Regions from separate parts of the Homo sapiens genome. Here regions 1, 2 and 4 are each linked to region 3. Evidence: fine-mapped expression QTL. A gene starts in region 3. Each other region holds a variant in brackets. All regions are shown on one strand. Distances are between the middles of the regions.

Region 1 (5,663 bases), 36 kb after region 3:
CATCTGGGGAAACAAAATAGGAAGAGAGAAAAGGCCTTAGAAATGAGCCCTAAGCAACTCTGTTGGTAGGAGGAAGGAATCATCATTAGAATGTGGCAAGAAGGTAGAGGAACAAGATGGGGTCATAAAGTTGAGGAGGAGAGAACCTTAGGAAACTAAAGGTGAGGAGTGTGAGAGGTTACAGAGAGGCTGAAGAAGGCCAGGACTGGGGGAAGCACCATGTCTAGCACTTGAAAGGTGAAAGAGAATTGGGCTGGGCATCAACTTGGAGGAGATTGAGGGTGCATGATTGGTAAATATCTGGAATCCAAGCAGATTCAGAGGAAAGTGGCAAACTTCAAGTCCATTTAACCTAGAAGTCTGCCAGGCGCGGTGGCTCACGCCTATAATCCCAGCACTTTGGGAGGCTGAGGCAGGCAGATCATGAGGTCAGGAGATCGAGACCATCCTGGCTAACATGGTGAAACCCCATCTCTACTAAAAATACAAAAAAATTAGCCGGGCGTGGTGGCAGGCGCCGGTAGTCCCAGCTACTCAGGAGGCTGAGGCAGGAGGATGGCGTGAACCTGGGAGGCGGAGCTTGCAGTGAGCTGAGATGGCGCCACTGCACTCCAGCCTGGCAACAGAGCGAGACTCTGTCCCCCCCCAAAAAAAAGAAAACCTAGAAGTCCGAGAGTGGAAAGAAGAACCACCCCCCACCCCACTCCCTGCACCCCCTGCCAAAAAAAAAAAAAAAGGCAGAAAAGTTGTTAGATCAAGTGAAGGTCTTTCCTATGTAGAAATTTGATCATGTTTAGGAACAGAAGGAGAGATACTAGAGAGAAAAGAAACAATTATCCTAGAAATTTGGGGCAGAAATCTCCAGGTGTATGATAGTACCTTTGAATATTTTTTTCTTCTCCATTAGTCCTAGCCAGGTGACTGCTAGGAAGCTACATTCTGCGATGGCAGGAGTGAATTGTCCTGTTGGTCAAACTGGATGGTTGGGTTTTGGTATGGTCACAGTGTTTGGACATGTGTAGGTGGCTACCTTAGTTTTCTCTTGCATGTCAATTGTGTAACAGAAGTGCTTTGTTCATTGTAAAACATACCATCTGTTCCATGCCATAATATTTTTAATGCAGTTACCTATTGCATAACATTTTAAGATGATAGGAGAACAAAATACGGTCAATTGAACAATGCTTTTCTCTCCATAATGACTTAAGCATTGCCCTTATCATTTAAATGAAACCTCATCAGTTAAAACTTTGAAATATATTAGTTTAAGTCATCAAAATCTTTCTGTCATATTATACTGTTTGACAACTAAATATGGTTTCCAGAAACAAGACCCAGATGAGCAGAGCTATAGTAACAACAGTTCTGAATCACATACATCCTCGGCAAGACAGCTGTCAAGAAACATCACCCAACATATCAGCTGTGCTTTCGGCTTGAAGAATGAAGAGGAAGGGCCTTGGGCAGATGGTGGCAGTGGTGAGCCAGCACACGCTTGTCGCCACAGTGTGATGTCTACGACTGAAATTATCTCCCCAACCAGAAGTCTGGTAAAATATTCCTTCTTAAATACCCATACAGATATCAGAACCTTAAAATGTATACTTTGAGATATGAGTCATTTTTCCATGCTAAAACATGATTAAAACAAGATAATTTAATGAAAGCCTTTGGGTGGGGCAGTGGGGTTTACTAGTTTGGGAGATTATTTTGTTTCTAAATTAACTGGTAAGCGGCTCCAGGGAAGGGGAAACTCCTCCAGAACCACCCAATACAGACCTAAGCTTATCTTTTAAATGAAACTATTTAACCCCAGAACCACCCAATACAGACCTAAGTTTATCTTTTAAATGATCCTATTTAACCCCAGAACCACCCAATACAGACCTAAGTTTATCTTTTAAATGATCCTATTTAACCCATCAAAAGGTTTTCTGGACTCTATGGTCTCCAGAAAAAGAAGTAAGTAGCTTGCCATACATAAAGATGCATGTTTGGTGATACTTTTTTTTTTTTTTTGTGGTGGGGGGTGGTGCTGGTTGTAAGACAACATTTTAAATGAAATAACAAAGGAGTTTATTGTCTGTTATTACTTTGTCAACTAAAGAGACAGCTGGAAGTGGCAGCATGCTTCTCCAAGTCCAGAAGTGGACTTTTTGCCCTTGCTGTGAACTGGTATTCATAAATGAGGCCCCTGCTCTATCCTACTCTGCAACACAATTACTATTGAAATAAGAAAGGTGTATAGGAATGTGAAGTAAGCATGCTGTAACAAACATGTTGCATGGTATGATATAAGGGACAGTGGGGGCTGTGGAGTCACAGATGGTGGTTGGAGGGAGGCAGTTGAGGCGAGCAGTTGAGAGTAGGCTCTGGGAACAGACTACTGAGGTTTAAACCCTGGTTTTACCACTTGCTAGCTGTATAATCTTGCATGAGCTACTAAATGCCTCTAATCCTCAGTTTCTCCATCTGAGCAATGGGTATAATAATTGTACCTACCTTGTATATAAGATAACTAACTCCAAATGATATCATGTCAGCAAAGTATCTGGCATAATACCTGTCACGTCACTTGGATAGATACCAACTTCTCTTGACTCATGAGCAATCAACATTGATTAGTGAGCAATAATGAGCCACAGGTATTCTAGCTCTGTAGCCAGTGTTTTGAGTTTTCTCACTTGGCTCTCACCAATGTTGTGCTCTGATTTGAGGTCCTACAGGCTTCCTGCTGGCTGGTGGGGGCAGGGCAGGGGTGGGGAGAGAGGTGGTGGGCGGCCTTGGCTTCCATTTCTGATTAGATTAATTGTGTTCTAGGATTCATTTGTGCATATGCTCAGTGTAGATTTTCATATTCTGACCACTTGAGATATAAGATTTCGCTGGCCAGTCAACCCATAGGAGACAGAATTCCTGTTGCTACTACATGAGCTGACATGGAATGACTAAAAGCAACAACAACAAAAGAGTGGGGCCAGGCGCAGTGGCTCACAATTGTCATCCCAGCACTTTGGGAGGCCGAGGTGGGCGGATCACCTGAGGTCAGGAGTTCGAGACCAGCCTGGCCAACATGGTGAAACGCCATTGCTACTAAAAATCAGGCGTGGTGGCGGGCACCTGTAGTCCCAGTTACTCACTCAAGAGGCTGAGGCAGGAGAATCGCTTGAACCTGGGAGGGGAGGTTGCAGTGAGCTGAGATTATGCCACTGCATTCCAGCCTGGGTGACAGAGTGAGACACCATCTCAAAAAAAAAAAAAAAATGACCTGAGCTAGACCTTGAGCCTGACTATCTAAGAAGAGTAATGCTTCTGCAAATGCTAGTATCAAGGTGAAAATCTTACTTGCACTTAATCCTCATTGATCCTTGTCAGGTAGGTGTCATCATGTCACTGTCATGGTGAGCCACCTGGCTACACCTTCCTGCCAGTCCTGTTGGACCTGGGCTGGGACAGGAGCCTCTGCAGTAGCAGAGCAGGCCTGTGCTTGGCAGTACTAGTAGCA[A/G]GTACATTTGATGGGAGGTCCTTGTTTTCCAAGGATAATTGAACCTGGGCATAGGCCACGTATAGTACACTAATTTAGAGTGGGGACTAACGTTTCCTAGTAAAAGCCAGAGATGTTCTGACTGGAATTTCCTTCAAAAAAGGGAGTAAAACACTTAATATTTAGTCTTTTTAGCCAACCAAGTTTGTTGTTAATTGGAAGAGTGCTAATTTGTAGAATGAACCAAGGAAGACTCGACGTTTGAGATTTTTATAGACAGTGCATGTCACTTCTGTCAAGTATGACTTCTGAGGCCTGATTGTAAAGAGTGCCATTTTTTTGCAGAAGCATTCTAGTATTTCATCAGTTTTGTCAAGGATTTTTCATCCTTTCACATTCAAATCATTTTTTTTTTTTTTTTTTTGAGACAGAGTCTCGCTCTGTTGCCAGGCTGGAGTGCAGTGGCACCATCTCGACTCACTGCAACCTCCGCCTCCCGGGTTCAAGTAACTCTCCTGCCTCAGCCTCCCGAGTAGCTGGCTCACACCACCACACCCAGCTAATTTTTGTATTTTTAGTAGAGATGGGGTTTCACCATGTTGGCCAGGCTGGACTCAAATTCCTGACTTCGTGATCTGCCCACCTCAGCCTCCCAGAATGCTGGGATTACAGGCATGAGCCACCATGCCCAGCCATTAATTTTTAAAATTAAAAAAATTAGTCTGAAACAATAGTCAACTTATAGAAAGGTTGCAGGTGCAGTACAAAGAACTTTTTTCCTGGCACATTTGAGGGTCAACCTGATGTCCCATCACCCCTAAGGCTTCAGTGTACATTTCTTACAAACAGGACATTCCCCTGCATAGCCACAATGCAACCACTAAGTCTGGGGATTAATGTTGCGGCGTTACCGCCATACAATCCTCAGGTCCCATTCAAGTTTCACCAGTAGTCTCAATAATGTCTCTTCTAGCAAAAAGACCCAGCTGAGAATCATGAATTACATTTAGTTGCCATGGCTCCTTCAGTCTGGAAGGAGAGTTTCTTGGTGCTTCTGTGACTTATAACCATGACACGTTTGGAGATTACAGGCCAGTTGTTTTATAGAGCGTGTCTTGATCAGCATTTGTCTGTTTCCTTTCGATTAGATTCAGATATGCATCGTCGGCAGGAATAACAAAAGTGATGCTGTTTTCTACTCATTGCATCCTATTACATGGGGCAGATTTTGATTTATTCTATTTCTAAGGATATTCACTTTGATCACTTGCTTAAGGTGGTGACTGCCAAGCCTTTCACTTTAATCTTTTTCTTTTGTAATTAATATGTATTTTGTGAGGAGGTGCTTTGAAACTATGTAAAGATCTCATTACTCATCAAACATTCTATATTTATTTATCAAATCTGTAATTTGGAAGTAATTATAGATTCACAGGAAGTTGCAAAAATAGTACAGAAAAGTGCTGTGCATCCGTAGCCCAGTTTTCCGCAATGGTTGCATCTTCCATAACTATAGTATAATATCAAAACTGGGAAACTGACATTGGTACCACGTATGCATAGTTGTATGTTGTTTTATCACACGTGTAGATTCATGGAATCACCATTGCAATCCAGATGCAGAACTGTTCCATCACCACAAAGATCTTCACGCTGCCCCTTTATGGTCACACCTACACTCTGCTCCCAACCCTCCATTCTTCCAAACTCCTGGACATCACTAATCTGTTCTCCACCTCTATAATTTATCTTGAGAATGCTATAAAAATGGGACCATACATTATGTGACTTTTACAGATGGTCTTTTTCCACTCAGATGATGCCCTTGAGATCATCCACATTGTATAAATGGTCTGTTCCTCTGCTTTTTGCTGAGTAGTCATCTGTGGTGTGGATGTACCACAGTTTAACTGTTCACGTAAATATTTTAGAACATTTTGGTTGTTTTTATACAGACATTTTTATATTAGTATGAGCTCATGGTTTTCTGTTTAATTCAGTGGATTATTATATACTATCATTTTTTATTATTTTATTGCTCCAATTGTCCCCACTGTGGCCAGCGAAAGCTCCTTAAGCTGGCAGCCTTTCTGTTTGATATGTCATCACGATTATTTGATCATTTCCTTTTTGGCAGAAGGTGTTCCAAGCTCATCTTGTACTTTTCTATCCCAGCCCT
Region 2 (5,663 bases), 68 kb before region 3:
AAATTTAAATGTCATTGTTAGAATGGATTTGAAGCATTTCGTTTCTGTGTTTCCATCAAGGGCAGTGGCTCACCTTTCCTTCCTGACTGTGCCTCAGAGAGGTTGCCTACAGTGACTTACCACTTAGGCAGGTCTTCTTTTCGTCTTTGCCACTAGTCACTACAAAGTAGGCAGGTCTCCTTTTCATCTTTTTGTCCTTTTTGTCTTTGCCATGCCTTCTGTGCAAGCCAGAACACTGTACATTCAAGGTCACTAACCACCTGTCTCCCATGTCCCCAGTGCTAGGAAACCCTCAGGTTTAGGGCCCTGTTGCCTCAAGCAATAATCATTTGCGATCAGTGATCTGTGTCACCTGCAAGCGGGTTCCAGACTGACCTTGGCAATCAGGAGCCAGGCATCTCTGGCACCTCTTCCTAGGTCACCCTCTCTCTGGTTTCCCCTTCACCATGTGAGCCAGAAGCTCTGCTCTCGGGCTCAGGTGGGTCCCAACAAGCATCCAAGGCCTGTCTGCTGAGTGGCCTATTGTCCATGGTGAATAGGAGGGGTTACCTAGGGACTGAGTCTCTAGGAGCCACTGGCCTGGGTGGGACCAGGCTAGAGGAATTCTCTATCTCTTGACCCTGGGAGAGGACTTTCAAAATGCAAGGGTGAGGAGCTGAATGACAGCCTGTTTTGGGTGACTGTTGGGCCTGTGTGGGAAGGCACTGGCCACTATCCAAGGCCCTCTAGAGGTGGCAGCCTCGGGGGCCCGTCCTCTTACCCCAAGATGCTGCTAGGAATTTATATCTACTGGAAACAGTTCTCCAGGAGCTGTTGCACATTCTTTGAAATATTTGTCATCTAACAAATGTTTATTGAGTTCCTAAAATATGCCAGGCACTAGGGGACAGCTGTGAGCCAAACAGACTCGAATAGTCGGTCATGTAGCCTATATCACTGGAGATGGCCAACCTTCCAGGGGCAGTCAGACTGATACAGGGCCAAGGCTGGAACCCTGGAGTTTGATCTTTGGGGGTGGGAGAAGCATGCTACCTGGTTGTTTACATGTTGCACATACCAGGGGATAAGTCTAAGTATCCGATTTTTTTTTTTCCTGGCTAGAAAACAGCCTCTGAAAATAACTCCCCTTAAATAAATGCTTTTTACTAAGCCTCCATGGTCCTGTAATAAACACCAAGAAGGGGAGTACAGTGCTTTGTGTTGGGTTCAGTTTGCTTACAAAACAAAACAAAACAACCCCAAACAAATGTGCAGACCCTTGCCTTGGAGGTGTTTGTGTGTGTGTGTGACCTGTGTTTGTAAATGTGTGTAGTGTGAACTAATTTCATCAACTTTTAAAATAATGACTTTTACTATTTTTTTTTTAAGAGACAAGGTCTCACTCTGTCGCCCATGCTGGTTGCAGTGACACGATCACGGCTCACTACAACCTTCTACTCCTAAGCACAAGCTATCCTCCTGCCTCAACCTCCTGAGTAGCTAGGACAACAGGCAGGCACCACCACACTCGCCTAATTTTTTATTTTTTATTTTTTTGCAGAGACGAGGGTCTCGTTATGTTGCCCAGGCTGATCTGGAACTCCTGGCCGCTAGGGCTTCTCCCTCCTTGGTCTCCTAAACTGTTGGGATTACAGGTGTGAGCCACCCCGCTCTGCCTTTTCTTTTTTTTCTTTTTCTTTTAAAAGGAAAACATGCATCTAAGAAAAAATTCTAAGCAGCACAAAAGATTAAGAAATGACTACCAGGTGTCTCTCCAGAATCTCAGCCCCATCCCTAGAAGCTCAAGCTCTCGTCCCATCTCACTCTCCGGTTTTAAAAATGAGATCAAGTCGCCCTGTCCGCGGTTCTTCCTGCCTGCCCGCCTCGCCGGCCTGGCTCTGGCTCCTAGCGGCGGGTCTCCTGCTTACCTTTCCTGCGCCCTCACTGCGCGCCAGCCACTTGGGAGAGTGCTTGCTTCCCCACAGCGTCGCCAGTTTGGTGTGTTACCGAAGATTTTGATCTTTGTGGGTCCGATGGGTTTCTTAAAGAAAGACATGAATTATGCTAGGGAAACAAGAGGAAGCAAGAGAAGGGCAGAATGTTTGAGGCAAGAGACGCTTTGCTTGGGTCCTGGGGGTGCGAGCGCGGGCTGGGGACAATGCGGGGGCAGTAGTTGCCTGAGCTCCAGATCACACCTGCACTCAGAGGCGGGAAGCCCTTATCCTGGTCACAGCCGCGCGAGCGGAGAGAGGCGGCGGGGCGGCGGGGTCAGCGGGAATTAGCGCGCCAGGGCCGGGGCGAGGGATTGCCGCGGGGCGAGAGTTCGGGACGGGATTAGCGGGTTCAAAAGCAGGTCAGGGAGAGCTAAGCAAGGCGACGAGGTCCGCGCGAGGTCAAGGTCCCCGAGAGAGGCGGGTTCCGGACTGGGCTCGGGAAAGGCAGCGGGCATTGCGATCGCGGGGAGGCTGCACCGGGAAGCCCAAGTTCCGAGCGCGTGGAGGGCTCGGCCGGCATTCGAGTGTAGGCCGCGCCCTCTGACGGCCGCGGGGCGAGGACACCTCTGACCATGGGCCTTGGTCGGGAGGAATGAGCGAGGGGCGAGGTGAACCCGGGTACGAGTGCGCGGCAACTTCAATGAATGTATCCGAGGTCGCCAGGCGCGCGCGCCGCAGATCTGCGGAACCGGGTTTATCTATTCGTCTTTTACATCGTAATCCCGTTTCCTTTTATTTTTACAACACTTTTTTTTTTCTGGCAAGGGAAGTCATCTCTTAGGCAAACAAACAGTCAAAAATAAAAATAAAAAACCGCACTGAACAATGCAAAGAAATGTTCTTGGCAGGAGCCAGTCTCTCCCGCGTCTCCTGGCACCTGTGGCCTCCCTGCGGAACAGATCCCAGAGTGTGACACCTTCTGTGTAAAAATAATCGCAACCCACACTCCACCCTTCTGTGCGTCCTGCACACGCACCAAGGGAGAGCTGGAAGGACAGCCGAGGGATACACGCTCTTCCACGAAATAAATATGTTTTAGGGGTGTGTGTGTGTGTGTGTGTGTGTGTGTCTGAGCCTCTGACTTGAAGTTATTGGAGAAGGTATTCACACATTATTTGGGTTCTCTCTTAAAGAGCTCTTGGGTTCTCTCTTA[A/C]AGAGCTCATGGGAAACACACCTGGCGGTACTGTGGGATGCGAAGTGGGCGCCTCACTCGGAAACCCCGGCCTTGGTGGATGATCTAAGAAAAAAAAAAACCCAGATGGACGGATACATGGGCACTTTCGGGATCGCTGGGTGCAGGCCGCCGTCGCCATTTCCACCGTCCACTACTCCAGGCACCTGCCTCTCGTCCCCAGCCTTGGCCTTTAGGTCTCCCTTCCCGCAGATGTCGCCTGGAGAAATGGAGCCCGGATGCTCAGGCGCGCGGCGTGGTATCCCCAAACCCGGGACCTCTGTTTTGGGTCTGGTTGATTTTCCACGGAGAACCGAAGAGTCCGCTCCTCAGGGGCGAAGTTTGCAAGTCCTTGGGGTAGATGGTGACGGGGGCTGGGGCGCGAGTGTGAAAGGACAGGAAAGGAAGGAGAGGGGAGAGAGAAGCAGGCTGAGAAGTGGGGGAAGCCGCGGAAGCCGGCAGCGCGGGAGCGGAGACGCGGAAGCCGGGTAGGGGGAGGGGCGGACTGGGACCAGGGCGAGGGGCGGGGCCGGAAACGGGCGGACTCGCGCCCTAGACAAAGCGCGGCCCGGTGGGCGAGGGCCAGCTGCTCTCCCCGCAAGGTCTCCCGAAACCGGGCTTTCGCTCGGCCAGCCGGCTGGTTCTGGTGGGGACGCGCAGGTTGCTAGTGGGGAAGCCAGTCCAAAGGGATCGATCGCCGGAGAAACCCCACGCATTCACCCAAACAGCCTTCGGCTCAGGGTGGCCGGAGCAGAGCCCAAGGGTCAAGGGCGAGGGGCCCCTTCCCTGCCCTTTTGTCCAGGTGGACTCTGTGGCCGTCGTTTTGTTCTGAGACCCCCTGGGAATGCCACTGCCGGGCCACAACCCCGACTGGCAGGTCAAGGTGCAGGAAGTCCCGCCATTAGAAATGCATTCCCCAGGCTGATATTACCTTCTTTTTCTCAGTTTTACAGTCATATACACAATGGTAAGACTCCTCTTGACGCCACTTCCAACCTCTGTGCACTGTTCGCATGGCTAGAACAGCAATAATAGAATTGAAAGCAGGAAAAATATCCCCGTGCTACCCCTAAAAGACTCAGTCTTTTTTTTTTTTTTTTTTAAATGTGCATCTTTATTTTGCATAATGTTAGTCCTGGTGAACATGTAGTTTTGTATTCAGTCTTTTCTACTTGAGGCCACACTTCAGTATTTGCTATGTGCTATGATCCTCATAAGTATACTTTTCAATGGCCGAGTAATGCTCTATTATGTTACTGTGTAATTTACTTAACCGTTCAATTACTTGATATTCTTCCGTGTCCAGTTTTTCTGTATGAAAATAATACACAACCTAAAATCTTCGTGTATATAGTTTTCTCCTTTGGGGAGGATTATTTCTTCAAGATTCTTACTGTTTCAGCAGGAAGGGGACATTTTCACTACTCTTAATAAATTGCCCAACCGCTTCCCAAAGCAATTTACGCAGGCATTTATTTTCGGGTCATTATGGGCGTGGTGCTACCGGTCAGGAATGTCCAGACTAAATCAGTCCCACCCTTAGAGCACTTTCCCTGCACCCCAAGCCTCTGGGAGGCAGGCCCTTGGAGCAAAAATTACCGCGCAAAGTGGGCAGCACGGTAGGGAGAGGAAAGAAGAGGCAATGGGAGCCGGGGAGTGGGTGAGGGGTGTGGGGGTTCTTTCCCCAGCCTGGAGAAAGTCAGGTAAGGCTTCACCTGACTTAGCAAGGAAGTGAAGGTGACTCCCGAGTACAGCCCCAGGCAGGGGTTTGCCAAGTAGAAATGGAGAGAGAAACATAGAAACCTTTGTCTGCGCAGGCTGCAAAGTTTGTTGGGTTTGGAGAGGTACGTAGTGGTTATACGCTGCGAGGGATCATAAATGTGGGTGGAAAAGTCCAGGAAAGTGGGATTCTCGCCATCCAGTCCAAGGAAATTGGAAACAGACAGCCTGGTTATTGTGCATTTGCATTATTTTAAACGGTTGCTGTATTAATAGAGGCATGATTACATAATCATTATTGTTGTAAATTATGTTTTACTGAAAACTAGTTTACATTTCCTTATTTAAAAATACTAATTGTCTTGCTTTCTGACTCTTGAGGCTGAAGAAAGAAATAGGAATTGTCCTTTAAGAAACAATTTCTTCTCTAAACCACAGTAATATGTATTTTAAATCATAAAAGCAATACATATATTATTTGATTTTTTAATAAGAATATATTCACATAAGATTAATTTAAAGATTATAAGTGAACACAAACTCATAAAATAATCAGACAAGTGTCTACAAGTCCTTCCTTAATCCTCTGTGCAGAAGTAGCATGGCTTATAGTTACTACGTTGCATATGTGAACTATTTAGATGTTTTTTGCAACAATGATTTATATTCCCTGCCACTCTGCAAATTGCCTTAAAAAAATAGGTCATAGTTTTCTTACATGTTAATGGAAGTAGCTCTATCTCATTCCTAGCAGCTGTCTTGGTAACATTATATAGATGTTCCATCATTTTTTTGTCTGT
Region 3 (5,663 bases):
TGGCACAGGCTCCTCCTGGGCCAAAGCTGTTCTCCTGGCCCGGCCTCAGAGGAGGCACGTTCCGTGTGGCTTCTCCACCTTTGTGGTTGGTCTGCAGTGTTGTTAGTTGGCAGCTGGGGACCTATAAGAGGCTGACCCCAGGATCTGTGCAAAAGACATGAGAATGGGACATAGGAACAGAGGGTGAAAGTAGCAAAGAAACAACACAACATGGATGGAACAAGCCATTTGCAAGGTTGTGAGTTTGTTTAAGAGTTGCTATGATGGTGTAATATGTAATTAGACTTTCCAAAGTGAAAGAAAATGTGATTTATTTCAAAAAGATTGTGACCGTTTGAAGTAATGGAGACAAGAAGGAACCAAAGAACAGGAATCTGCTGGTAACCCCAGCACTGGCTTTTAGAGGGGTTCCTTGACCAGCCATGGGAATATTGGTTCTGTTCAGCTGGTAACCCCTGTGGCAGGGACAGGGACATCACGTTTGCACAGCTCCATGGCACTGTCCACTGGGATGCCTCATGCCTTCTCTTCTAATGCTAGGCCCACCCAGCAGCAGGAACCCCTGAAGCAGTATCTGTTCCTCCTGGAAGGGATAGGGCTCATTGAAAGCCACACATTGGCCCCAGCCTGCTCCATCAGATTCTTTGGAGTTAGTCTTGAGAACCTGGTCACCTCAGGAGGCATGGATCCAATCAGCTAAAGTTGGGGCCTGCTTGGTATTTTCTGACACCACTTCTGACACCAAATGTGTGCTTTTTCCTGACACCAGCCGATTCTCTGACACCCGCTGGGCATCCAACAATTCAAACAGATTCTAACACTAACTTCCAGAGTTAGCACAGATCTCACAGGGTAAGGCCTCAGTCCCACAAGACTGCCCCCCTTCAGATGCTAGCTACAAGTGAGGTAGTGACCCCACTTCTGCCTGGTCAACTACAAATTTGGGGGTTCTGGCTAGGCAAGGTGGCTCATGCCTGTAGTCCCAGCACTTTGGGAGGCTGAGGTGGGAGGATCACTTGAAGCCAGGAGTTCCAGACCAGCCTGGGGTATAAAAAGAGATCCCATCTCTACAAAAAAATAAAAATAAAAAATTAGCCAGGTATGTTGGCACACACCTGTAGTCCCAGTTATGCTGGGGTTATGCTGGATGTGACAGAGGCTGGGATGTTGGGGCTGAGAACTGAGGATCACTTGTGTCCAGGAGTTCAAGGCTGCATTGACTTATGATCGTACCACTGCACTCCAGCCTGAGTGACAGAGGGAGACCCTGTCTCAAACAAAAAATTAGGGGGTTTCTGCAACAACCTCTCAGTTTTCATAATTCACTAGAACAATTCACAGAACTCAGAAAAACACTGTACTTCCTATTCTTTTATTGTAAAGGACAAAAACAGCCTGATGAAGAGGTACACAGGGCAAGGCCCAGTGGGGTCCCAAGTGCAGGAGACTCTGTCTCTGTGGAGTCAGGGCATGACACCCTCCTGGCATGTGGATCACCAATCCCTAAGCTCCTTGAATCTCATTTTTTAAGAGTCGTTATAGCCCAGACCCCAGGCCATCTCCCATACCTGGAGGTCTGGGAGTAGGGAATGGGAGTGGGTGGCTGAAAGTCCCAGTCTTCCAAAGTCTAATCCCATGTTTGGTCTTTCTGGGACCAGCCTCCAGCCTGAAATTATCTAAGGGTCCACCCTGTGTCACCTCATTAGCATAAACCCAAGTGTAGTCCTAAGGGGCTTATTATGAATAACAAAAAACACTCCTGTCACCCAGGAAACTCTAAGCGTTTTAGGAGTTCTGTGTCAGGAACTGAGATGAAGACCAGATATATTTTTTACAGAGTTGTCCCTTGGTATCTGCAGGGGATTTGTTTCAGGACTCCCATGGGTACCAAAGTCCACAGATGCTCAAGTCCCTTGTACAAAATCATGTAGTATTTTTATATAACCTCCGCACATCCTCCTGTATACTATAATTCAGTTGTGAGTCCCCAAGTGGCTGGTCACCCCGCTTCCTCCTTTGACCTGCAAATATCGGCCGCACTGACCTGGCCCCTCTTTTACCTGACTCCTTTTACTTAAGAGGTTCTGAGGCTAGAATTAAAGGTCAGCCATAGTCATAAGGATGTTTTCTGTGCAAAGCTGAGACCCCCTTCCTAGGTGCCAGTCCCAGCCCCCAGAGAAGAAGAGGTGTGTTTGGGGTTATGCTGGATGCGGCAGAGGCTGGGATGATGGGGCTGAGAACTGACGGGAAGGTGCTAATGGGAAGAGGAAGAAAATAGGGCAGATGGGTATCTGGGAGCCTCTAGGGGAGGGGCCCACTGGGGCGGGTTTCTGCAGAGTCAGGCAGGGAGGGAGGAAGAGCTGGGAGGGTGGTCAGGAGCATATAAGTGTGGGTGTCTCAGCTTTGCTTCCACTGCCATTGGTCCACGGGACGGCCCTTCCAGGAGCCAGTGGCTGGGAGCAGTGCTGGAGGATCAAGGAAGCAGAGATGGACGGTGAGGCAGTCCGCTTCTGCACAGATAACCAGTGTGTCTCCCTGCACCCCCAAGGTGAGAAAACTGGGGCCCCAGCTCTTGCCCAGTGAGGGAGTAGCCTGCCTGTCCTTTGGCCCTCTGCCATAAGGCAGCTTATTGCTGTCTTATTGCTCTCCCCAGACCCTTGTCCTTGGGGATGCAGACCTGGCAAGAGAAAGGGGATGAACTTTGAATTCAGATGGTCCTGGCTTGGAATCCCGGCTCTGCACACTGAGCTGGTCCTGTGAGGCCTCCCTCCCTTCCTTTCTTCTTTCATTCAAACTACACTTTTGTTGCTCTGTGCTCTGTGCCAGGTTCTGTGCCCTGTGCACCACCAAAGCCTCCTTGAGATTTGGAGATCGGTGGTCTCGGTCTCAGAGCTCCTCAGCTCTGTGTTGCTACCATATCCACATCTAGCTCTGGTGAACAGCCCAAAGTGTTTTGTCTTCCTTCTCCATAACCACCTGCATGATAAGCATGGCAGGAGTTATCATCCCCATTAGACAACCCAGGAAACAGAATCAGAGAGGCTGTGTCTCAGCCTGCACAGCACCCTCTTACCTTGCACAGCACCCTCTCACCTTGGACACTGCCTTCTCCCCTGCAGAGGTGGACTCTGTGGCAATGGCTCCTGCAGCCCCCAAGATACCGAGGCTCGTTCAGGCTACCCCGGCATTTATGGCTGTGACCTTGGTCTTCTCTCTTGTGACTCTCTTTGTAGTGGGTAAGCCCCCAGGTGACCCAAATCTCACTAACTTTCTCTCCTTTCAGCACAAAGTCCCCAGGGGCCCCAGATGCACACTCTCTGGGCCTCTCTGCTCCCAGAAAGATCATTCCACCTCCAGCTCCAGGCCCAAGCCACAGCTTCCCTGGGAACAGATAAAGGCCACTGTCCAAGGGGGAGCCTCCCAAGAACTGAGGTTCATGAGGGAAACCCTGGGAGGGTCTTTGCTGCTATCTCCCCGGTTCTGGAACTCTACCTCTGTGTGGGACAGCGTATCCTCCCAGGCTCAGGGCTGGGGATTTGCTGACCTGGAAAAATGGAATGTCTCAGTTCAACAGCAGACAAGACCTGTTCCGAAGCCTGTGCAAGCCGTAATTCTGGGAGACAACATTACTGGGCATTTACCTTTTGAACCCAACAGTGAGTAGCCACAGTGGGGGTGGGGTGCAGAGGGAACTGGGGCCTTCAGATGCTCAGACCCTAGGATGAGCTTCTCTCCTGGTACCCTCTGACCACTGAATGGGCTCCACCATCCTCACAGAAAGAGATAATTTTTTAAAAACACAGTTTTATTGAGGTCTAATGGTGTATATATTTAAAGCATACAATCTGTTAAGTTTTGACATATGTGTGTGCCCCTGAAACCATCACCACAATCATCATCACATAGTCATCCTCCTCACCCCAAAGTTTCCTTGTGGCTCTTTGTAATTCCTTCCTCTCCCTTCCTCTCCTCATCCCTGGGCAGCCACAGATCTACTTGCTGTAACTATAGATTAGTTTGCTTTTTCTAGAGTTTTATAGATAAGAGATCATAGAGTATGTACTCTTTGTTCTTTGCTAGTCATGTGATTTGCAAATATTTTTCTCTCAGTCTGTGACTTGTCTTGTCATTCTCCTAACAAGATTTTAATTTTGATAGTCTAATTTATCATTTTATTTCTGTTATGGATTATTCTCATGATCTCGTATGTGAGAAATCTGCCTAATCCAAGGCTACAAAGATGTTCTCCTTTGTTTCTGGAAATTGTACAGTTTTTAGTTTTAGTTTTTGTTTTTGTTTTTTGACGGAGTCTCGCTCTGTCACCCAGGCTGGAGTGCAGTGGCGTGATCTCGGCTCACTGCAAGCTCTGCCTCCCAGGTTCATGCCATTCTCCTGCCTCAGCCTCTGGAGTAGCTAGGACTACAGGCGCCCGCCACCACGCCTGGCTAATTTTTTGTATTTTTAGTAGAGACGGAGTTTCACCGTGTTAGCCAGGATGGTCTCGATCCCCTGACCTCGTGATCTGCCCACCTCAGCCTCCCAAAGTGCTGGGATTACAGGCGTGAGCCACCATGCCCAGCCCGGTTTTTAGTTTTACATTTAGGTCTCTGCCTCATTTGAGTTAATTATTGTATAATGGTGTGAAATTGATTGTTCCAGCACCATTTGTTGAAAAAGTTATCTTTCTCCGTGAATTGCCTTTGCACCTTTGTTGAAATTCGATTGTCCATATGTGTGGGGGTCTACTTCCGTATTCTCCATTCTGTCGCATTGATTTGTTTGTCTATCTTTACAAAGCAGAATCTTTGACTGAACTCCCAGTACCTTGAAAGGTCCCCTCTCTTACCTTAGCACAGTAACTGAGGTCTCACACATCTACATAGGCAGTGCATGAGAAATAGTACATGGATGCTCCAGAAAGGGTCCCTGCCATCTTGGGTTTTTCTCCCTATTCCTGAGGGGAGACTGGAATCAGAAGGGGATCATGGATGTGTGAGATTAGGTCCTAGTTCATGAGGTGAACAAAGGATGCTAGCAGGACCAGAGGTAGATGCATGTGAGGTTGGTGGGAAAGACCTTGCAGATTAAAGGGGCTGTGGGGTCTCCTTCAACGACCCCAGCGCAAGGCCTTTTACTCAGGTTTCCTGTATCCTCAAACTGTTCTGTAGGGACCCTTGCCCTATGTAACACTGGGGGTGCTGGCTCTTTAAAAGGCCATCTCAGCTGAGGTCCAGTGTTAGTTACCTGGAGGGCATGGCATGCCTCTATCATAGCCCTGTTGATTGAACAGGGTACTTCCTCCCAGCACACCTATTTTGTTTTGTTTCTGTTTCTTTCCTTTGTGTTTTCTTCTCCATGGAATTTGCCATCATAAAACTTATGTTTGTGGTGGTTTTTATCAAGTAACAATGGTGAATCAAGAGGCTCTATGCTTGGTGTACAAATATAATGTAGGACTAACCACAGGCTTTATTCATACCTATTTTCTTTCCCATAATGACCCATCTGTGGTGAAATTCCAGTAAAATTAAACTTCAACAGCTCTAAATGATAAAATCAGTTACTTTCAAGTTGAGCAATTATAACGACAAAATAATCCAAGCCTTACCAGCATGACTCCTGGTGGCAGCTGGCTTACAGCAGGCAAGCATTTCAATCCTTCT
Region 4 (5,663 bases), 21 kb before region 3:
TAATAATTGTTATGTGTGAATTTGATCCTGTCATTATGATGTTAGCTGGTTATTTTGCCCATTAATTGATGCAGTTTCTTCATAGCATCAATGGTCTTTACAATTTGGCATGTTTTTGCAGTGGCTGGTACCAGTTGTTCCTCTCCATGTTTAGTGCTTCCTTCAGGAGCTCTTGTAAGGCAGGCCTGGTGGTGACAAAATCTCTCAGCATTTGCTTGTCTGTAAAGGATTTTATTTCTCCTTCACTTATGAAGCTTAGTTTGGCTGGATATGAAATTCTGGGTTAAAAATTCTTTTCTTTAAGAATGTTGAATATTGGCCCCCACTCTCTTCTGGCTTGTAGGGTTTCTGCTGAGAGATCCGCTGTTAGTCTGATGGGCTTCCCTTTCTCGGTAACTCGACTTTTCTCTCTGGCTGGCCTTAACATTTTTTCCTTCATTTAAACTTTGGTGAATCTGACAATTATGTGTCTTGGCGTTGCTCTTCTTGAGGAGTATCTTTGTGGTGTTCTCTGTATTTCCTGAATTTGAATGTTGGTCTGCCTTGCTAGGTTGGGGAAGTTCTCCTGGATAATATCCTGAAGAGTGTTTTCCAACTTGGTTCCATTCTCCCCATCACTTTCAGGTACACCAATCAAACGTAGATTTGGTCTTTTCACATAGTCCCATATTTCTTGTAGGCTTTGTTTGTTTCTTTTTACTCTTTTTTTCTCTAATCTTGTCTTCTCGCTTTATTTCATTAATTTGATCTTCAATCACGGATATCCTTTCTTCCACTTGATCGAATCAGCTATTGAAGTTTGTGCATGTGTTACGAAGTTCTCGTGCCATGGTTTTCAGCTCCATCAGGTCATTTAAGGTCTTCTCTACACTGTTTATTCTAGTTAGCCATTCGTCTAACCTTTTTTCAAGGTTTCTAGCTTCCTTGCAATGGGTTAGCTCATGCTCCTTTAACTCAGAGAAGTTTGTTATTATCGACCTTCTGAAGCCTACTTCTGTCAACTCGTCAAAGTCATTTTCCACCCAGTTTTGTTCTGTTGCTGGCGAGGAGCTGCGATCCTTTGGAGGAGAAGAGGTGCTCTGTTCTTTAGAATTTTCAGCTTTTCTGCTCTGGTTTCTCCCCATCTTCGTGGTTTTATCTACCTTTGGTCTTTGATGTTGGCTTGGTTTTGGTGTGGATGTCCTTTTTGTTGATGTTGATGTTGATGCTATTCCTTTCTGTTTGTTAGTTTTCCTCCTAACAGTCAGTGCAGGTCTGCTGGAGTTTGCTGGAGGTCCACTCCAGACCCTGTTTGTCTGGGTATCACCAGCAGAGGCTGCAGAACAGCAAATATTGCTGCCTAATCCTTCCTCTGAAAGCTTCATCCCAGAGGGTCACCCGTCTATATGAGGTGTCTGTCTGCCCCTACTGGGAGGTGTCTCCCAGTTAGGCTACACGGGGGTCAGGGACTCACTTGAGGAGGCAGTCTGTCTGTTCTCAGAGCTCAAGCGCTGTGCTGGGAGAACCACTGCTCTCTTCAGAGCTGTTAGATAGGGATGTTTAAGTCTGCGGAAGTTGTCTGCTGCCTTTTGTTTAGCTATGCCCTGCCCACAGAGGTGGAGCCTGTAGAGGCAGTAGGTCTTGCTGAGCTGTGGTGGGCTGTGCCCAGTTTGAGCTTCCTGACCATTTTGTTTACCTACTCAAGCCTCAGCAATGGTGTATGCCCCTCCCCCAGCCAGGCTGCAGCCTCGCAGGTCGATCTCAGACTGCTGTGCTAGCAGTGAGCAAGGCTCCGTGGGTGTGGGGCCCTCTGAGCCAGGCACAGGAGAGAACCTCCTGGTCTGCTGGTTGCTAAGACCGTAGGAAAAGCAGTATTTGGGCAGGAGTGTACCGATTTTCCAGGTACCGTCTGTCATGGCTTCCCTTGGCTAGGAAAGGGAAATCCCCCAACCCCTGTGCTTCCTGGGTGAAGTGACACTCCACCCTGCTTTGGCTCGCCCTCTGTGGGCTGCACCCACTGTCCAACCAGTCCCAATGAGATGAACCAGGTACCTCAGTTGAAAATGCGGAAATCACCCTTCTTCTATGTCGATCACGCTGGGAGCTGCAGACCGGAGCTGTTCCTATTTGGCCATCTTGGAATGGACCCATCCATGTTATTATATAAATAAATAGCTCTTAAACTTGGAAACATTTTGACCATTGTTTCTTTGAATATGTTTTCTGTCCCTCTCCACCCGCTTTGAGGACTTCAAATCCACGTATATTAAATTGCATGAAGTTGTCTCAGACTTCCTGATGTTCTGTTATTTTTTCTCTCTGAGCTTCATTTTGCATAGTTTCTATTGGCATATCTTCAACTTCATTGATCTTTTCTTCTACAATTTATAACCTGCCATTAATCCCTTTCAGTGTATTTTTCATACCAGGCATTGTAGTTTTTTCAGTCATTATAAGTTCAATTTGTATCTATTAAATGTTTCATGTCTCTATTTAACTGTTTGAACACAAGAAACACAGTTATAATGTCTATTGTAATGTCCTTGTCTGGAAATTCTAACATCTGTATCATTTCTGGGTTCGTTTCAGTAGATTGGTTTTTATCCTTATTACGGGTTATATTTTTCTGCTAGTCTGTTCTATGAGCTCTGTTATGGATTGAATTGTGTTTTCTGTTCATTTACATGTTGAATCCCTAATCCTCAATATGACTGTGTCTGGAGATAGGGCCTTTATTATAAAGCTATACTAATTAATATTGTAGAGTTTTGTTATATCAATAGAAAGACAAATGGAACACAACAGAAAGTCCAGAAACAGACCTTTAAAGATATGAAACAAACTCAAACATATTATGAAACACATGATGAAGATGGTACTTCATAATCAGAGATAAAATTATGCATGGTTTTAAAAAATGGTATCTGGACAGCAGGCTACCCATTTAGAAATGGATAAGTTAGATTCCTTTCTAAAATCATGGAATACTTGAACAAAACCATAAGAGATAAGAAAAAAATGGAAAATCATGAAATCCAAATGTATCAAATATAAAAAGTGAAAATGAAGTTACAATAGAGCATGAAATAAAAATAAAAGTTATTATGCAGATGTAAGTTTGATTTTAAGGTTATCCATAATATATTATTACACAAAAAAAACTTACACACTATAGGGTATAAGTCTAGTTTTGTAAAAAAAAATGTATATGCTTACATAACGCATTGGACAGGACTCTTTGGTTGCAAGAAACAGAAACTCATCCAATTAAATTCAAATGAAAATAAGAGATTTTCATTTTTGT[G/TTGTG]TTCACATAACCAAACCAAGAAACACAGTGTCTGTGGGGAATGGAACTCAAGTTCAACAGGATCCAGCACTCAAAGGCACCAGGACTCACTTTCTGTCTCTTCATTTTTTGTTACAGCTTCTGTCTCTGTGCTGGTCTTATTCTACTGGGGTCTTCCACATGACAGAGGAACTGGTTACTAGCTGCCCTATAGTCATATCTTTAGGTCCCTCAGTTTAGGGAGAGAGGAGAGCTACCTTCCTACCCAAACCCTGGGCACCCATCATTGCAAGTTGTCACTCCTACACCTGCGGGTATCTAGGATCAGCAGCCCCATTTGAATCACAAACTGAAAAAATTTCCCAATGGAGGGGGATTTTTGGTATCAGAAATGCAGGAGAGGTTGGGCGCAGTGGCTCACGCCTGTAATCCCAGCACTTTGGGAGGCCAAGGCAGGTGGATCACAAGGTCAGGAGATTGAGACCATCCTGGTTAACACGGTGAAACCCCGTCTCTACTAAAAATACAAAAAATTAGCCGGATGTGGTGGCAGACGCCTGTAGTCCCAGCTACTCAGGAGGGTGAGGCAGGAGAATTGCTTGAACCCTGGAGGCGGAGGTTGTAGTGAGCCGAGATCACGCCACTGCACTCCGGCCTGGGCAACAGAGTGAGACTCTATCTCAAACAAAAGAAAACAAAACAAAAAAACAAAAAAGAAAGGCAGGAGAGGTGGGGAAGGATGCTAGGGAAAATAAGCAGGAATTGTGTTGTGAATATGTATATAATATATGCATAGTTATGATTAGACACAGCTATGGCTATAGATATAGATGTGTATACATATACACGTGGGTGGTTAGGAAGACTGAACTATGGGTACAACATTTGTTTTCTCTACGATGGTTTTGTTGTGTTTTGTTTTGTTTTGAAACAGAGTCTCACTCTATCACCCAGGCTGGAGTGCGGTGGCACAATCTCAGCTCACTGCAATCTCCACCTTCCAGGTTCAAGTGATTCTCCCGCCTCAGCCGCCCGAGTAGCTGGGACTACAGGCACCCACCACCATGCCTGGCTGATTTTTGTATTTTTAGTAGAGACGAGTTTCACTTATGTTGGGCAGGCTGGTCTCAACCTCCTGACCCCAGGTGATCCACCCACCTTGGCCTCCCAAAGTGCTGGGATTACAGACATGAGCCACTGCACCCAGCCTATGGTGGGTTTTTTTCTTACTTGGATTTTTTTCTATAATTAATTATCATTAATTATATAATAAATAAAAGATTTAAAAAGAAACTATGCACATTTTTTTTCCCAAAAGCCTTTCATTACTTTCCTGACATAGATTTGCCCTTCCCACTGAGGCTATAGGCATGAGTTCTTTGACTTATGACGTAGTCTGGGGCAGCCTCCTCTGCCGGGTACACAGCAGCTCTTCCATGTGGCTAGGTTGCCAGCCTATTTACATATCACACTATTTATGATGGCACTGGGTGAAATACCCTGATCAGTAGGGTCTGGCTTATTGTCACTGTTCCAAAGAGACCTGTCCTCATATAATGTCATAAAAGAGGAACCCGTTATCAGGGTCCAAGGAGACCTGGGAAGGCCCCTATAGTGTCGTCAGTCATTTTTAGTCTCGGGAGAGCCTTCCCTTCTCCCCAGCATTAAGGATGTCATATTTTTTCAACAATAGGAAAACCATTCCTGAGGGCAGGGTCTGTGGTTGTCTTTTTCCTTGCTGTGTCCTGGTACCTAGTGCACAGCAGGACTAGAGGAGTGAATGGTGCCACCTATGCTCCTTGGTTTCTCTGCCCTATCCCCTGTGCCCAGGGCGCATGTCCGGAGGGTGGCATGGAATCCCTTGATTTTTTGGAGGCTGTGGGCCAAATCCCGCATCACATCACAGGAGTCCCTATGTAAGCCAGGTGTGACCAGCTGTAATCTCCTCTCATTTCAGAGTCATTCTCCCCTCCTCCCTCTCTTCTCCTTCCCTGTCCCCACTCCGCAATTTGGTGTTCACTCTACTTTCCTCCATGACTTGACTGAGGGACTTGGGTGACTCCTCCCTGGAGATGACTCTTGGCACTGCTGGAGCATTTCATACAACCCAGGTCTCTGTTCCAGTCTTGTTGATTAAACCCATGGTTCTCCTCCAAGCATAAGGCTGGGCCCAACCATAGTCTCAACCAGAGAAAGGGAAAAAGTGACCAAGCTGTTTTCTTCCTCCATCCTTATCCAGAGAAAATATTAGAACCCCAGGAACACAGGAAGAGGAGAAACTAAAAAAATGAGCACAGACTTCCCGTTCTCATCACAGCGGTGATTTTTTTGGTCACTAGGTCTGGCCAGAGTTCCTCTTCTGTTTGGAAGAGCAGGGCATTGTCTGAGTGCCCGGGAGAAC

Direction of the effects. Positions count from the first base shown, and alleles are read on the strand shown. Sizes are in standard deviations (SD) of each study's normalised expression. Not every link is listed here.
For the expression in tibial nerve of the gene that starts at base 2,412 in region 3, C is the low allele of the variant in region 2 and A is the other (large effect, 1.0 SD a copy in GTEx).
As copies of G replace TTGTG in region 4, the expression in monocytes after Pam3CSK4 of the gene that starts at base 2,412 in region 3 goes down (moderate effect, 0.51 SD a copy in Quach 2016).

The links. PIP is the estimated chance that this variant, and not a neighbour inherited with it, causes the effect.
Region 1: its variant is fine-mapped to the expression of CLEC4F in whole blood (TOPMed, PIP 0.92).
Region 2: its variant is fine-mapped to the expression of CLEC4F in tibial nerve (GTEx, PIP above 0.99). The same link has a PIP of 0.9 or more in aorta, breast, cerebellar hemisphere, cerebellum, gastroesophageal junction and left ventricle.
Region 4: its variant is fine-mapped to the expression of CLEC4F in monocytes after Pam3CSK4 (Quach 2016, PIP 0.95).

What each region holds. Positions count from the first base shown.
Region 1 is chr2:70,781,302-70,786,964 of GRCh38, reverse strand. FIGLA (folliculogenesis specific bHLH transcription factor) reads left to right here. Exons shown (of 5, transcript NM_001004311.3): 3 at 1,326-1,550. Among named protein-coding and RNA genes, the nearest start is that of FIGLA, 6.5 kb to the left of the region's middle. The variant A/G (reference allele first, on the strand shown) is at 3,506.
Region 2 is chr2:70,885,833-70,891,495 of GRCh38, reverse strand. LINC01143 (long intergenic non-protein coding RNA 1143) reads right to left here and starts at 3,625. Exons shown (of 4, transcript NR_126384.1): 1 at 3,316-3,625; 2 at 3,148-3,210; 3 at 1,908-2,020; 4 at 1,512-1,675. RefSeq lists an enhancer at 3,118-3,768. The variant A/C (reference allele first, on the strand shown) is at 3,127.
Region 3 is chr2:70,817,348-70,823,010 of GRCh38, reverse strand. It overlaps CLEC4F (C-type lectin domain family 4 member F), which reads left to right and starts at 2,412. Exons shown (of 7, transcript NM_173535.3): 1 at 2,412-2,548; 2 at 3,120-3,236; 3 at 3,567-3,656. The coding sequence starts at 2,488.
Region 4 is chr2:70,838,661-70,844,323 of GRCh38, reverse strand. No RefSeq gene overlaps it. Among named protein-coding and RNA genes, the nearest start is that of CD207, 5.7 kb to the right of the region's middle. The variant G/TTGTG (reference allele first, on the strand shown) is at 3,284.